2 separate regions of the Homo sapiens genome follow, and region 1 is linked to region 2. The links come from fine-mapping of genetic effects on gene expression. A gene starts in region 2. The other region holds a variant in brackets. All regions are shown on one strand. Distances are from middle to middle.

Region 1 (5,363 bases), 24 kb before region 2:
CTAGGCTGGAGCCAGGACGACAGGGCTTGGACACAAAGTCCCTCAAGCCCACAGCACCAGGCCAGCTTCCAAAGGCCTTCCTTTAAGGCTGCCCTTCTTCCAGGGCAAACTTGGTGTTGTCAGACCCTTCCCACCCGCCAGAGACGAGCTGCTATTGACCCAGGTTCACTCCAAGTTAGAGCAGCAACTGGGCTCTCAGCCAGCACCTGAGCACCTCAGCACAGGAGCCGGCCCAGGCTTCCCTAGCTGGGCACAGAGCAGCCCCCTTGGTCCAGGTCAGCAGTGGCTCCTCTGGTGGAGGTGCAGGCCCCGTGCCTTCCCACTGTGCCCAGGTGCCACATCTCTCCTCCTGCACCACTGGCCGGGTGGTTCTTTGAGTCACTAGGGGTGCATTTTAACATGGCAAGTTGCTGGGCCCCAGTAGCTGTGTTTAAGACTTCCCATTCCCCCTCTTCTCATCCTCTGGAACTTACCCATTCCCTGACCCCCTGATCCTTTCAGGTCCATGACTGGTGCCTCCAAGCCCCTTTCCAGGGAAACTGAGAGGACACAGGACCTGCCTGACCCCTCTAAAGCCCCCCAACCCTCCTGTCCCAAACCAAGTCACTCAGGCTCCTATGGCCCATGCCTTTTTTCCTGCCCTTAGCTTTGGGCTGAGAGAACATAGCCCTATGTGTTGTTTCTACCCATGGGCCTCTGGGATAAAAAGCTGTGATTTCAGGCTGGGCATGGTGGCTCACGCCTGTAATCCCAGCACTTTGGGAGGGCGAGGCGGGTGGATCACGAGGTCAGGAGATCGAGACCATCCTGGCTAACACTATGAAACCCTGTCTCTACTAAAAACACAAAAAAATTAGCCGGGCATGGTGGTGGGCGCCTGTAGTCCCAGCTACTTGGGAAGCTGAGGCAGGAGAATGGTGTGAACCCGGGAGGCGGAGCTTGCAGTGAGCCAAGGTCGTGCCACTGCACTCTAGCCTAGGCGACAGAGCGAGACTCCATCTCAAAAAAACAAACAAAAAAAAAACCCTGTGATTTCTCCCTTGCTTCTGCTTCCCAGTTCACTTCCTTAAAGACTCTTGCCCTTTTGGCTGGGTGCAGTGGCTCACGCCTGTAATCCCAGCACTTTGGGAGGTCAAGGCGGGTGGATCACCTGAGGTCAGGAGTTCGAGACCAGCCTGGCCAACATGGTGAAACCCCGTCTCTACTAAAAATACAAAAATTAGCTGGGTATGGTGGCGGGCGCCTGTAATCCCAGCTACTCCGGAGGCTGAGGCAAGAGAATCGCTTGAACCCGGGAGGCAGAGGTTGCAGTGAGCCGAGATCACGCCATCGCACTCCATCCTGGGGGACGAGCAAGACTTTGTCTCAAAAGAAAAAAAAAAAAGACTCTTGCCCTTTCAAGGCAGCCTTCTCAGTATTGGGCCCTCATCCTAGCCTTCACCCCTTCCTCTTGGTACCAGATACGAAACCAGAGAAGCCAAGCAGGATGGGCACTCAGCCCTGGGTCTGGTGCTCACCTGACCCAGACCCCCCAGCCAGCCCCTGGCCAGACCTGGCTCTGCAGGGGCTGGGCAATGCTAATGGCTCTTCATTTGCTAAAACTGGACTTAGCCTCACTGTGCCTCCCATCCTGAGGCTGCAGTTTGGCAGCCTGACCCTCTGACAGCCCTGAGTGCCAGATGCCCGGGCTGCCTGGCCCGGCCCGCCTGGCTCGGCCCATTCCTTCTGGGCCCTTTTGATTCTGATTATCCTCTTTCAGACACACAAATTAACCAGAGCCAAACGCCACTCCCAGCATGAAGGAGCGGGGGACACTGCCACTTTCTGCATTAGTTCTTGGAGTTGCTAGAAGGTGGAGTCTGCCCCAGCCCTGTGTTTTGGTTTCTGTGGGGCTTGGGGCCAGTTCAAGGCCTATCCCAGCCCAGTTCCAGGCCACCCTCTGGGGACTAATGTCAAGTTCTGCCCTTGTCCAGTGCCGGCACTGTTGGCTGGCAGAACCTAAAACACCAGGCCTCCACATTTCACCCTGCTGGCAGGGGCGGGTGCAGGATTTTCTCCAGATTCTGTCGCCTAGTGTCCAGTGCGCTCTCCTGGCATTTCTATAGAGGCGGCCCAAGCAGCGTTTCCAGCCTTTGTGTAAAAGGCTGGCTGGCTGGAGGAAGGGAAGCCCGTGTCCTTGGGATTTGCCCTACTGAGCAGACAGGGGCCTTGAGCCCAGCCAAGCCTGGAGAGTGGCAGTCTGAGGGTCCCTCAGACTCCTGTCTCCTCCTCATTCAAGGCCCCTCTGTGTATGTGTGAGTGTGTGTGTGTGTGTGTGTGTGTGTGTGTTGTGGGGAGGCGCTGACCTGCTGAATTGGCATCCTCAGACAGTCTTGTGATACTCGCAGCAGCTTTAAGCCAGGAGCAGGGATCGGGCTATTTAGAGCTGTGGCATCTCCTGCTGCCAC[C/G]CCCTGGCTGTCTTAGCCAAGTCCATGCCCTGTTGAGGGGAGAGGCCCAAGAAACTCATCCAGCCCTGTCCCTCCTCATGGGCCTGTGGGGGTGGCAGCATAGAGGTGCTCAGGGAGTGGCGGTGGTGAAATCAACGTGCTTCTTTATTTTTTAAACTAGATAGGCTCATTCTACTGTCTTCTCCAGGGCTCTTCTATGAAACAGTTACAAACCTACGGCCAGGCCAGGCAGTGGCTCACACCTGTAATCCCAGCACTTTGGAATGCTGGGGCAGGAGGATCACTTGAGGTCAGGAGCTCGAGACCAGCCTGGGCAACATAGGGAGACCCCCGCCCCCCCCGCCATCTCTACATAAAATTTAAACATTAGCCAGGTTTGGTGGCCTGTGCCTGTAGTCCCAGCTACTCAGGAGGCTGAGATGGGAGGATCGCTTGAGCCTGGGAGTTCAAAGCTGCAGTGAGCCATGATTGCAACATTGCACTCCAGCCTGGGCGACGGAGCGAGACCCTGTCTCAAAAAATAAAAACCAAAACCTACTGCCAGTTTCCCCAGGGCTTCATGCCTCAGCGCTCCCTTCTTGCTTTGAGAAGGGAAGGGGAGCTCAGGTTCCGGAGCTGGAGGGAGGAGTCCAGGAAGGCCTGGGGTAAAGGAGGGCTTAGGGGCTAAGCTCGGGGTCGGGGCCAAGTGGAGTGACTGCGCTCCTCTGGGGGAAGGAGGCTGGGATGGCCCACGGGAGGACAGAGGGGAACTGAGGGCCCACAAGTGTCCTGCTCCCCAAGTCTCCTGGCAGCAACAGGCTTGCTCCTCATAAGTCACAATGAGGGGTGGGCTGAGGACAAGAGGAGCTGGGGCCATCTCAGGGCCCCAGGGTTGGAGCTCACTGAAGTCACATGAACACCTTTCTGTTCTTCAGGAGGGGCCCAGGCAGCCCTCAGCACCCAGGTGAGACCAGCGCCTGGTGAATGGGCTGAGTGGGCCAAGTGGGTGGGCTGGGGGGCTGGTACTCCCACCACCTGACTCCAGAGGAGGAGAGGGCTCTGCAGGGGATGTGGACTGGCACTCGCAGAACCCCAAGGCGAGTGAGGTGGGCCCTCAGGAGCGCTGGATGCGGATTTGGATGAAGAGCGTGGCTGGTGACAGTGAGGCCCCGTCCTTGGAAAGCAGGTGTATGTGGCGGTACCCTGTAGGGAGGACAGCCAGGCCTCAGGTCCTCTGTGCACCCTGGGGGTCTGGCCCAGCCCGGGCCTGCTTCAGGGCAGGAAATTCGAGGCACAAAGGTGAACAGGGTCTGCAGGACCTGGACCCACATCCCTCTCCATCCCCACCAGCCTCCACCAACCTTGCTTTAGGCTGCTAAGAGGCAGTGTAAACTGGCCCACAAAGTCATTGGGGGAGGTGGCGTCATAATCTTCCACCACAAACCGGACCAGTGCCAGCTCCGGAGCCCGCAGCTGGAACTGCAGGGTCTGCCCCCAGCGGGGGTTGAAGCCTAGGGCACAGGGATGGCAGTCAGAGCCCAGGGGCCCCAGGACCCACCCTGCACCACCCTTCGCTCTCTGCAGTCTCCCCCAACCCCACTTCCGCCAGTGGCTGCCCACCATTGTTGAGCACGTAGTCAGTCTCCTGCCGGGCACAGTCTGCGGGCACCCCATGGATCTCAATGCGCACCAGGGGGTCCACAATGGAGTGTGGCTTCTCGGCATTCAGCTTGGGCAGCTGCTGTGCAGTCAGCACCTGTGGGTGAGGGAGGGAGTGGCTGGGGCCCACGCCCACCTTGGCCATCCCCTCATGGGCCTCAAGCTCACACCACCCTCACTTCCAAATGTCCCCAGCCTCCCTTGCCTTCCTCCACCTCACAAAGAGCCTTTCTAGAACCAGTCTGACCCCACACTGGGGCCCGTTCCAGCCTGCTGACCTGGATGCTGAGAGTGGTTCTGGGAGGTCCTGGGTACTCGGGGTCAAAGGTCGAGTCAGGTTGCCGCAGGCAGGCAGGTTTTAGGACGTAGCCACACTGCCCATTGACTAGGAAGCGCCCGGCATTGAGGTCCATCTCGTAGCCTGGCGTCTGGAAGTTCAAGGCCACTGTGGACACAGCAGGGTCAGAGCAGGGGCTCTTAGCGGCCCTGTTCTCACTACTCAGTTTCAGGGGACTGCATTCCTCTCTACAAAGGGCCTGGGGTCCCACTGTCTGCTTAGTGCTGCTCTGCTCCCACCATGACTTTAGGGGAGGGGGTCATGGACCCAGCCCCCACTGTCACCTGTACTTCTGCCCTGGGATCCCTCAAGACTGGGGTGGGAGGTACTAAAAAAGCCCCCACCCTCAGGGCCAGGCTTGGGTCAGAGCCAGGGGTCTGAGGAAGCCTGGGGTTTCCATCCTTACCCCAAGGAGACGATACAGCCCTCCTTTGGTGGGGCTCAGCGTCCCCCAGAGCCCACCCTTGTCAGTGTTGACTTAGTGGGACTGCCAGGTGTGTGGGGGTTGTGTGTGTCCGGGGGACATGGGAGTGGAGATTTTAATTTCTACCATGATAAAAATGCGAGACCTGTACACTGTCAAGAACAAACGAGCCTGATTTGATTTTCCCACCTACATTGCTGGCAACTTTAAAAATAATCAACAAAATGCGTGTTTCCACCGTCTGGAAGGCTGTGTGGGCCCCTCACTGCTGAGGCCTCCCCCACACTGTGGCACCCCGCCTGCTCTCATTCCTGTGGCCCCCACTTACCCAGCTGACAGCCCGAGTTCCACATCTCCTGGGGACTGTAGTTGGCTGAGTTCATCCGCAGCCCCAGCGGGTACACGCGGGTCAGCTGGCGGGCATTGTGCCTGACAAAGCTGTTCCCTGGGGCAGAGTTGGGGTGAGACCGTGACAGACTCCGGGGGTCCCTCACCCAAAGCCCCGGCCTGTAACCTC
Region 2 (5,363 bases):
CGGCGTGGCATCCTACAGAGAGGCTAGTGCTCAGGGCCTGATTTGCCACCTACTTGCCCTGCTCTACCCCATCCTCAGATCTCCCAGGCCCAGAGATTCTGCACACTGGCTTGGGTCCCTACGCCACTCTGGGGTCCTGAATTTTCTTTTTTTTTTTTTTTTTTTTTTTTTTTTTGAGACGGAGTCTCGCTCCGTCGCCCAGGCTGGAGTGCAGTGGCGGGATCTCGGCTCACTGCAAGCTCCGCCTCCCGGGTTCACGCCATTCTCCTGCCTCAGCCTCCCAAGTAGCTGGGACTACAGGCGCCCGCCACTACGCCCGGCTAATTTTTTGTATTTTTAGTAGAGACGGGGTTTCACCGTTTTAGCCGGGATGGTCTCGATCTCCTGACCTCGTGATCCGCCCGCCTCGGCCTCCCAAAGTGCTGGGATTACAGGCGTGAGCCACCGCGCCCGGCCCTGAATTTTCTTCTTGATTATCGTATTCGCCTTTGTGCTTTTGATCCTGCCGTTCCTTCCTCCAGAAACAACCTTCCTTATTCTCCTGGTTTACCCTTTTGTTATTCTTGTTGTTGGATAGGCTAAGTCTACATTTCTTTTAATTGTTATGGACACTTAATAGTTGCAGAGAATTATGGAGAGGCATGTAATGTTTTGATACAGGTATAAAATGTGTAATGATCAAATCAAGGTAATTGAAGTAACCATCACCTCAAGCATTTATCATTCCTTTGTATTAGGAACATTCCAATTCCGCTTTTAGTTATTTGTATTTGTATTTTATTTGTTTATTAGAGACAAGGTCTCACTACTTGGTTGCCCAGGGTGGAGTGCAGTGGCATGATCATAGCTCACTGCAGCCTCAAAGCAATTCTCTTGCCTTGGCCTCCCAAAGTGTTGGGACTACAGGCCTGAGCCACCACTTCCCGCCCAGTTATTTTGAAATATACAATAAATTGGCCGGATGCGGTGGCTCACGCCTGTAATCCCAGCACTTTGGGAGGCAGAGGTGGGATGATCACTTGAGGCCAGGTATTGAATGAAGACCAGCCTGGGCAACATAATGAGACTTCTGCCTCTACAAAAATTGTTTTTAAAATAATTAATTTAAAAAGATACAATAGGCCGGGCGCGGTGGCTCACGCCTGTAATCCCAACACTTTGGGAGGCCGAGGTCGGCGGATCACGAGGTCAGGAGATCGAGACCATCCTGGCTAATATGGTGAAACCCCGTCTCTACTAAAAAATACAAAAAATTAGCTGGGCGTGGTGGCGAGCGCCTGTAATCCCAGTTGCTCGGGAGGCTGAGGCAGGAGAATGGCGTGAACCCGGGAGGCGGAGATTGCAGTGAGCCGAGATCACGCCACTGCACTCCAGCCCGGGAGAGAGTGAGACTCCGTCTCAAAAAAATAAATAAATAAAATAAAATAAACAAAATAAAAAGATACAATAAATTATTGGTAACTATAATCGTTGTATTGTGCTACCGAACACTGGATCTCATTCATTCTAACTGTATTTTTGTACCCATTTCCCCCCCTCCCCAGTACCCTTCCCAGCCTCTGGTAACCATCATTCTGCGATGTCCATTTTGCTTACTCTTTTTTTTTTTTTGAGATGGAGTCTCACTCTCGCCCAGGCTGGAGTGCAGTGGGGCAATCTTGGCTCACTGCAATCTCCACCTCCCGGGTTCAAGCGATTCTCCTGCCTCAGCCTCCCGTGTAGCTGGGATTACAGGCGCGCGCCACCACGCCCGGCTAATTTGTGTATTTTTAGTAGAGATGGGGTTTCACTATGTTGGCCCGGCTGGTCTCGAACTCCTGACCTCAGGTGATCCGCCCGCCTTGGCCTCCCAAAGTTCTGGGATTACAGGCATGAGCCACCGTGCCCGACCATCTTCCAAAACTGAGCTGTGATGTCCTTCCTCTAGAACACCTGACCACAGGACATGACTTTTTTTAATCCCCAGTGCCTAAGTGTCTAGAGAGCTGAGTGGGTTGCCTCGGATCGGCCAGGCCTGGATATCAGCGAACAGATGCGGATTTCCACCAGGGGGCGCTAGGACGCCACGACCTTTCACTATGTGCACCAGGGGGCGCTGCCGCCCGCCTTGGCCATCCCGGGCTGGGAAGTCCGACCCTTCGATTAAGCCCCGCCTGATTGGGAAAGGCTCTGAGAAACTATTTGCATGATCTTGAAAGAGCTGTGCTGAATGGTTGAGGTAGGTAAGCCGAATGTGAAACAGGCTCTCTCATTGGCCTAAATTCCCCCCCTCGATCTGCGTCGCCATCCCGGCCCTGCTGGACCCCGGGGTCAGTAGGAAGCCGCGGGGTGGTGGCGAGAGAGGACCCAGGTGTCCTGGCAGTGGGCGCCGCGGGGCACACGCTGGGCCAAGGTGCAGGCGGCCAGGGTGGGAGACTGTTCGCCCCGCCCTGAGTACTCCTATCTTGTTTCTCCACCTGTTCGGGAGTTGGAGATGTGCACCTAAAGGAGGCGCATCTGGGGACGGACACATCTGGCACTGAGGCCCTCGCCACCTGCCTCGCCACCTGGCGACCCTGACCCCACCACACTGCCTTGAGGTAGGAAAAGGAGGCTCCTCAACCACAACTTCTGACCTCCCAGGGTGTCTGAGGCCTCTAAAGAGCTTAGTTTGCCCCTCTGGGAAGTGAATCCTTGGCTTATGGTGCCGGGGGGACCCTGGAGGCCCCCTCACACGAAGGCTGCTTCTTGCAGAGTCGCTCAAAAGTAGGGCCCCAGGGCTCGCAGCAGCATGGGCACCGAGAAAGAAAGCCCAGAGCCCGACTGCCAGAAACAGTTCCAGGCTGCAGTGAGCGTCATCCAGAACCTGCCCAAGAACGGTGAGGCTGCGGGGACTCGCATTTGGACTCGCATTCAGGACGCCTGGGGTCTGACTCTGAAGAAAGAATGGTCCTGATCACTGCAGTTTTTGCAGACAAGCCCCTGCCTGGGCTGTCCTGGGGGTTCCCTCCGCTTCCTATCCTAGTCCAGATGCCCTGGGTGGGACCCATCACCACCTCTGCCCTTTCCAAGCAGGGTTCTCCCGCCCCTCCGCCCCTTGGAGCTGGGAGTGATGCTTTGCCCTGGCTTCCCAACTCTCTGCCCAGGTTCTTACCGCCCCTCCTATGAAGAGATGCTGCGATTCTACAGTTACTACAAGCAGGCCACCATGGGGCCCTGCCTGGTCCCCCGGCCCGGGTTCTGGGACCCCATTGGACGATATAAGTGGTGAGCTCCCTGCTGGCTGGGCAGACAAGCCTCAGCTGTCAAGCAGCCCTCTCACAGCCCTCTGCCCCCAGGGACGCCTGGAACAGTCTGGGCAAGATGAGCAGGGAGGAGGCCATGTCTGCCTACATCACTGAAATGAAACTGGTGGCACAGAAGGTAAGGGCTGCAGGTTCTCTGTCCCCAGGCTCCTGGCCAGGTGGCCTCACCCTTCCAGTTCTGACCCCCACTACGTTTCCTACACATGGACCCCCTCATGGGAATCACCACCTTCATGTTACCCCCAACCCTGCCTATCTTTGGCCCCTGACTGGGCACAGGGTGGAGGTGTGTGACAGGGCAGGAGCAGGGAGGAAGGGACAGGAGGCCACTCCGTCCCCAACAGACCCCCTCCCCTACAGGTGATCGACACAGTGCCCCTGGGTGAGGTGGCAGAGGACATGTTTGGTTACTTCGAGCCCCTGTACCAGGTGATCCCTGACATGCCGAGGCCCCCAGAGACCTTCCTGAGAAGGGTCACAGGTCAGACTCCCAGGCTGGGAGCTCCAAAAGTGCTGAGTGAACCGTCTTAGGTCTAGGCTGAGGTGGGCTGGGGGCAGAGGGCTCCAGGCGACATCCCTGTTAGGGCCCCCAAGCCCCCGAGAGGTGGATCCCAGGCAGCATCCACGGCTCATCACGAGTAGGGGCTTGATCACACTGGGAGGTGCCAGCCTCTCCCCAGGCCCACCTCTGGGTGCTGTGTCTTGGCAGGTTGGAAAGAGCAGGTTGTGAATGGAGATGTTGGGGCTGTTTCAGAGCCTCCCTGCCTCCCCAAGGAACCGGCACCCCCAAGCCCAGGTTAGTGCTTGAGCAGGAGGGGTGGACCAAACTCAGGCTGGGGGAGGGCTGGAGGGGAGAAGGCTGGATGCCACGCTGTGCCCTCCACAGACACTGAGACTTCCTGTGCTCCCAAAGGTGGGGACCGGGGTCTAGGATTCCTGTTCCAGGGCCTTGCTTCTGGCGCCCATCTGTGCCTCAGGTGTTGATATCTCTAGTGCCTCGTATCTCTAGTGTCTCCTAAACAGGTGCTTCTGCCCAGTGCACACTCCTGCTCTCCCTCCACAGCTTCCCTCTGGGCAGTAACTCTACCAACCCCTCCACAGAGTCCCATTCACCCAGGGACCTGGACTCCGAGGTTTTCTGTGATTCCCTGGAGCAGCTGGAGCCTGAGCTGGTGAGCCCAGTCCCCATTCCCCCCTTTTCCCACCCCACTGTGCTCCCACTCCCACCCTCAGCTCTCTGACTCATCTCAGCAGGTTTGGACAGAGCAGCGGGCAGCATCTGGAGGAAAGCGTGATCCCAGGAACAGCCCCGTGCCCCCCACAAAGAAAGGTGAGCTCCTACCCAACCTCTCACCCACTTCTGCCCTTTCCCGTGGTCCTGGCACCCCAGGCTTTCTCTTGGCTGCCTTCCTAGGGCAGAGTTGAAAGTCCATTGCTGGGCACTGAGCGAGAAGCCTCTGTCCAGGAAGGGCTGCCAACCAGCCAGATACCTGCCTGGATGGGCAAAGTCCCCGCCCTCCCTCCTCTCCCCAAAGGGCACCCAGGAGTCTGCACCCTCTGCAGGTCCTGAGTAAGGCCAGCGGGATGGGAGTCCTAGCCCAGTTCTCCCACCTACAGCTGCACAGCCTCAGGAAGTCATCCATATTCTCTGGACTCCCCCGTTTGGAAATCTCAGAAGACAATGAGTTCTGCCCTCTTCCCTTCTAGAACTCCTGTTGTGTGTCAGGTCCTGTATGGACATTTTGAAAAGTTTCTCCTTTTTTCCTCTGAGCAAGCAGCCCTGTGAGAGAAATGACATCTTCTCCTAATTTTTAGATGACAAAATGATGCCCAGAGAAGTTAATGACTTTGGCCGGGCACGATGGCTCACGCCTGTAATCCCAGCACTTTGGGAGGCCAAGGCAGGCAGATCACCTGAGGTCAGGAGTTTGAGACCAGCCTGGCCAACATGGTGAAACCCTGTCTGTATTAAAAATACAAATATTAGCCGGGTGTGGTGGGCACCTATAATCCCAGGTATTCGGGAGGCTGAGGCAGGAGAATCGCTTGAATCCAGGAGGCGGAGGTTGCAGTGAGCCG

Direction of the effects. Positions count from the first base shown, and alleles are read on the strand shown. Sizes are in standard deviations (SD) of each study's normalised expression.
As copies of G replace C in region 1, the expression in anterior cingulate cortex of the gene that starts at base 2,313 in region 2 goes down (small effect, 0.36 SD a copy in GTEx).

Evidence for each region. PIP is the estimated chance that this variant, and not a neighbour inherited with it, causes the effect.
Region 1: its variant is the best candidate, but not a certain one, in a credible set for the expression of ACBD4 in anterior cingulate cortex (GTEx, PIP 0.72).

What each region holds. Positions count from the first base shown.
Region 1 is chr17:45,109,076-45,114,438 of GRCh38, forward strand. It overlaps PLCD3 (phospholipase C delta 3), which reads right to left. Exons shown (of 15, transcript NM_133373.5): 11 at 5,175-5,291; 12 at 4,364-4,530; 13 at 4,047-4,182; 14 at 3,788-3,937; 15 at 1-3,629. The coding sequence ends at 3,541. It overlaps MIR6784 (microRNA 6784), which reads right to left and starts at 5,358; the gene lies at 5,292-5,358. RefSeq lists enhancers at 2,855-3,720, 3,721-4,585. The variant C/G (reference allele first, on the strand shown) is at 2,448.
Region 2 is chr17:45,133,375-45,138,737 of GRCh38, forward strand. It overlaps ACBD4 (acyl-CoA binding domain containing 4), which reads left to right and starts at 2,313. Exons shown (of 10, transcript NM_001135705.3): 1 at 2,313-2,579; 2 at 2,734-2,858; 3 at 3,126-3,246; 4 at 3,318-3,402; 5 at 3,645-3,765; 6 at 3,994-4,080; 7 at 4,386-4,456; 8 at 4,539-4,614. The coding sequence starts at 2,771.